Regions from separate parts of the Homo sapiens genome. Here region 2 is linked to region 1. The links come from fine-mapping of genetic effects on gene expression. A gene starts in region 1. The other region holds a variant in brackets. All regions are shown on one strand. Distances are between the middles of the regions.

Region 1 (2,921 bases):
ACTGTATATAGCGATCCAAAACTAACACAGAGCTAAATCCACTTTTTTTTCAGCAAAAATGTTTAAAAAGTTCTGTAAACATATCCGTTGTCAAAAGAGTCATTGCTGAGAAGTCCCAGAAAGACTGATCTAAAATCAATATTTGTTGGGCCGGGCACGGTGGCTCAGGCCTGTAATCCCAGCACTTTGGGAGGGGGAGGCCGAGGTGGGCAGACTGCTTGAGACCAGGAGTCGAGACCAGCCTGGCCAACACGGAGAAACCCCGTCTCTACTAAAAAGAAAAACAAATACAAAAAAATTAGCCGGCCATCAGGCGCGCAGCCTGTAATTCCAGCTACTCGGGAGGCTGAGGCTCGAGAACTGCTTGAACTCGGGAGGCGAAGGTTGCGGTGCGCCAAGATCACGCCACTGGGCTCTGCCTGAGCGACAAAGCTAGGCTCTGTCTTAAATAAATAAATAAATAAATAAAATATTTGTGGCACCAGGAATCAAAGATAAACTTAGAGTTTAGCTACCAATCTTCCATCCAGACTGCTCACAAAACACTTTATATCTTAACCTGATATATGGTTATATGAAAGAAAGCATTTGGAAGCAAGTACACAGAAGACAGTCAAAGAAAATTCCATTGTGGAACCACCAGCAGCCAAGTCACCCTTCACACCAAACCATTCCTCTATAATCTGGAATCTTATCTTTCCCATTCGCCCACAACCCCCATTTTTCACATAGATGAACACCCACCAGGTACTGGGGTCCTTCCACCAAGTCCCTCCCACCTTTGGCACTGAAGGTACGGCTCATCAGTCCTCATAAGCAACCTCCAAAATCTACATTATGGTTACTATTTCTAATGGTAAATTAATCGACGGAACCTTTTTATTTACAAGTCGAAACTTTCTCTGTCCCTTACTAGTTCTGTCTCCAAATCATGCGTGCAGAATTACTCCCACCCTTGGACTGCAAAGTGAAATCACAAAGACCGCTAAGCTCACGTCTCAGAAGCTGGGAACTAAAACTGTCCCAGTCTTCTGGCTGAGAGTTGTACCTCCTAGGACCACGCTGGGGCCCTGCCCTTGCAGTAGTATTCCAGCCTCTGATCCCTGACCCCGAGGGCCAGGAATTTCCCTTCTCAGCGTCCTGACACCTGTTCCTGGCCAACTCCCAGGCCTCCAAAGAACAGATACAGGAACAGCGCCTGTCGGGTCCTCTGGCCTACAGAGAGGTGGCCGGCAGCCCACCCAAAGTGGGCCCCACCCCCCATCCTCCTCTCCGGACTGGGCCACCGGGCGTCCTGGCGTCGGGAGAAGGCTTTCCCCAGGGCTTTCCCGCGTGAGGCGTAGGCCGATCTCCCGACGCGCGGCCTAGTCCGACAGCGCCTCATTCATCCACACATCCCCAAGCCACCCGCTGCCCTGGCCCCATCTTGGCCACTGGGCCCGGGCCCCGCGCCAGCCTCAGGGCAATGAGCCCAGGCGCCGAAGACCTGGCGGAGATCGCGCCCCCGGGCTCCCTGAGGGCCTCACCGTGCTCGGCCTGGGCGATGACACGGGGTCCCAGCGGCAGCGAGAGAAAGGTCCTGCCGGCAGCTGGAGGCGGGGAGGAAGGAGGAGAGAACGCAGGCCCGTCCCCTCCGCCGAGCGGCACGCACGACGGCGGCGACAGCGGCGGAACGGGCGGGCCGGGCGCCGAGCGGCACCTGCGCGCAGACCATGGGCCCCGCCCCTCCCCGCCTTGCCCGCGCGTCCCGCCCATTGGCCTAACCGGCCGGGGAGGCGGGAGTAGGGCGGGAGGAGCCCAGGGTGGGAGGAGCCGCGCGGCGGCAGGGAGCTGGAGAGGGGAAGGCGCTGGCTAGGCCGTTCCCGGGAGCTCTAGTCTTCCGCTTCGGCACGTGGGCTTCTCGGTTCTAGGTCTCCGCTTCCGTCTGGCTGCGCGGCCTGGGTTACCTGCTCACGTTCACTCGCGGGCCTACAGCCCCAAGCTTTCCCAGCTGGACTGCGGAGTGCCTTGGGCCCTGACTTCCCTCCGGGAGATCCGGGGCGTCTGAAGTCAGGCAAACAGCCACACCAGCCCCGAGGACCGCGTGGCCGCTAGCCCATCTCCCTTTTCTATAACTTTATTCGCTCAGTCTGTGCGGAGAGAAGCTGTTAACTAAAAGTTCTTGAAGGAAAAGGGGCTAAGGGAAACTTTGGTCTAGGGATTTCTTCCTCGCCTTATAGTTAAAGCGTCGCACACAGGTACTGGATCACAGAATGCGTTTAATTGAGCCAATTTCCCCCCTTTTCCTCTTGGTAGTTGAGAGCAGGGGCCTTTGAAATTTGGGAATTTCCAATCTGGATTTCGCCACTCATTGACTGTATGACCCTAGACAAATTAACTTCTCTGGACTTCAATTTCGTTCTGGATAAAATGAGGCTATTAAAACCACCTTATGAGGTTATTCGTGTGAGAATAAAATGAGACAATGCGTGTTGAGCTCATAACAACAGTACTCAGCACATACAGAAAAGGCTTGTGAGTAGTCGCTGTTGTTAATATTAGGATTTCATCCCATCTCACCCACATCATATCAATACCATGAGCGCCACTGGAGAAGGAATTCTTTCATTTAGGTCCTGGCCTTCAGATGTCATTCAGGTATTTGTTGTAATGAATATGATACCTGTCCAAAAATTGTGACACTAGAAGCTCCTTTTAAAGGGATTAGTTGCTATTAATATTAAAGGATGTAAATAGGTCGCCATCCCCATTTTACAAGTGAGGAAACAATATCAGAAAGGTTGATTAATTTGGATGAAGTCACACAACTAGTAAATGGCAGCAGCATATTTCAAACCACAATCTAACTGAAAATCTGGCCGTAATCCCAGCACTTTGGGAGGCCAAGATAGGGGGATCAGTTGAGCCTAGGAGTTGGAGAA
Region 2 (2,921 bases), 130 kb before region 1:
AAAGAAATTCTTTGTGTAGATGAATCATTTGTAATTTGAAGAACACTGGATAGCTATAAACCAAACTTTATATTTCATTTCCTAGAACATAGATGTGTGTACATGTATAGAGAATATATATTTTAATTTCACATGACAGAATCCTAAGGAACACTTAATTTTTTAAAAAGTACTTATAAACCTTTTAATCTGTGGAAGCTAGAAAAAATTTTATATAACTTTTCCTGTTTATGTGGAGTGAAATTCTTCAGCTAGTTTGAAAAAGATGAAAGTCCTGACATATTTGATAAATTACATCACTCACAAATCAGTAAGTCAGCAGATGGTGCTAATGAAGATTACAACGGGCACTCCCAAATGTATCACTTTCTTGAATTCAGTGAACCATCTGGCAAATAGAAATCATTGGCTATAAATAGTATTGCAAAAAATACAAACAGGCCAAGGGAAATTCCTAATATGCATAGGGTCAGTAGCATTATGTTCATATAAAAAAAGTGCTTTCGTATATAATTATCTCTTTCATAAGAAACCAGAAGTGCACTACTGTATTGTTATCTCTCGATAAGAATATGAAATTGTCGAAAGAATATTCAAAACCCATTTAATGAAAACCAAATAGGAATTCACAAATATTATTACATGTAAAAATATATTCAAATGCAAAAGTACATTTGACCAAAAAAGAAAAAAAAAAAAGATTCCTGAATGGGCAAAGGTTTTTCCCCATCCCCACTTCTTTCAGCCTTCCATCTCCTGTAATAAAAAGATCATTTTTCTTTATCATATTCTTTTTAATTCTAAAGATTCTGATCAGAGAAAGAAATAATCAATTCCACAAAATTCATTCACCAAAAAATTATTTGAAATCCTAATTCATAGTATAAATAATACTGTTAACAATAAGCTTTATCATAATACAAAGTAATCTTTCCAAAGCAGAATGTCTGTGTTATATTTCTAGCTTAAATGATCTTGTCAGAAACTGATGACCTCCTACAATAGTTCTATAGAAATAGTTTTTTATATTTATATGCATATATGTGTTTGTATATATATGCACACATACAGAAATAGAAAATTGTGTGTCAAAAATATACACACTTCCACCTACATATACACTTACTGAGATATAGTAGCTGTAATTTTTATAGGCAGCTCAAGAAATCAAGAAAATATATTTATTCCATGATTCCCCCCAAACCAAGCACATAATGTGTAGTATCCCCAAACTATTTTTAGTTGTTATGTACAAATTATGTGGAAAACTAATGAACACATAAAGATGGGAAAGGGGAAGGAACTGAATCATGGTATAATAAGAATAATAAAACATTTTTCTATTTAAAATGCATTTAGTGAACTTGACACATTGCCCTTCATTATTAAACAACTTAAAAGACTTTCCAAGTATTTGTCTACCTATCTTGAATCAATTTCATCACTCAGATTAATTGACTCATATAATATTACCCAAAAGGTAATGTTAAATGACTACAAGCCCACCAGGGCATATGAAAATGTGTGTATAACACACACACACACA[AAC/A]ACACACACACACACACACACAGTCTGCGTATCTAAAAGTTTAGTTATATTTTCCAGTTGAACATAAATATGTAGTATAATAAATAATAAAATATAATTATCCTTTATTAACAGTTTCAAGAAAGGTAGGATCACAAAAATGAAACATAATTGATGGCTGGTAGGTGTAAAAAATATGTAAAATTAGTTTATTCTACTGATTTCATAATTGGATGGCATATTCTACTAACAGAGCAGCAAGGGTGCAAAGATTGAAATTTAAACCCCTAATTAAGCAGTAGTTTGACAGTTCTAATGTCCTGTACCTGCTTGACACCATGACTCAGTAAGCAATCTCAAATGAAAATTAATACCGTCTATAGTATAATCTTAGTTATAAGTAACAGCTGATCGTGTTTAGAAAATGAAAACCTCAAGTGTTCAAAAATGCTTGTGCTCACCAAAAACAACAAAAACTTCTATATAGTTTTACTCATTCAAGAAACAGCAATTTGTAATAATAAAAAATGGTTTGTGGATTCACTTACAACATCTTGATTACTGTCATTTGATCATAACACAACTGCAACCAACCCGGCTGCCATGTCAGCTTCTCTTCAGGGGCTAGGTCTTTAGTCATAAATCAATGAAATGACTAATTCAATGACTAATGCTTGCAGCCATTCCAGTTTTTGCATCTCACAAAATGTCAATATAGCTACTCAATAACACAATAGACTTATCTTTCAAAATGCTTCCTTCTTTTCTAGGGTTGAAAAATAACACATTACCATTTACATTTAGGGTGAACTTCAGTAACTAAAGTGTTCAATACTTCTGAAATGGTGACCTGCTAAAATAACAACAGTTTTAGTCTCCTCTTGTGGCCAAAGTCACAAACCTCTCCTCTCCTCTTTCTTGATGGTTTAAAATAGTTTTCCAGATCTAAAAGACCCATGAAAGTATTTATTACTGTTTCCTGCATCAGTCTTATTTGCTATAGTAACATTACATGTTAATCTTAAAAAACAAAAACTTTTTCTTTTGCTAAAGAAGCAACTAATAATGCAAATGGAGCTTAGATGTAAACATTACCAAAAAACAAGATGCTAACACAATTAAAAGGATTTAGTAGTTAAAATGGATTTTAACTATTTACATCTGCTTTCAGTGTTATAAATGATGAAAACCTAGTGTTCATATCCCTCATAATAAAAATTTATTCTGCACTTTAATACAAAGGCTATGTTGCATAAACAGAGAGGATTTAAAGCTGTAGCAGAGTGGCTGAATGAAAGGAAAATGGCAATCTTTCTGGCTCCAGTAGATGCCATTCCCTATCACACAATATTTCCCACTCATAAATATATGACAAATACTTCCTCAATCATTTT

Alleles and levels. Alleles are on the strand shown, and positions count from the first base shown. SD is a standard deviation of normalised expression in the study named.
As copies of A replace AAC in region 2, the expression in prefrontal cortex of the gene that starts at base 1,607 in region 1 goes up (small effect, 0.25 SD a copy in BrainSeq).

What was found. PIP is the estimated chance that this variant, and not a neighbour inherited with it, causes the effect.
Region 2: its variant is the best candidate, but not a certain one, in a credible set for the expression of OLA1 in prefrontal cortex (BrainSeq, PIP 0.58).

Annotation. Positions count from the first base shown.
Region 1 is chr2:174,246,926-174,249,846 of GRCh38, forward strand. OLA1 (Obg like ATPase 1) reads right to left here and starts at 1,607. Exons shown (of 11, transcript NM_013341.5): 1 at 1,527-1,607. RefSeq lists a silencer at 1,393-1,912.
Region 2 is chr2:174,118,410-174,121,330 of GRCh38, forward strand. All of the region lies in intron 7 of OLA1 (Obg like ATPase 1), which reads right to left. Among named protein-coding and RNA genes, the nearest start is that of LINC01960, 95 kb to the left of the region's middle. RefSeq lists an enhancer at 2,407-2,921. The variant AAC/A (reference allele first, on the strand shown) is at 1,547.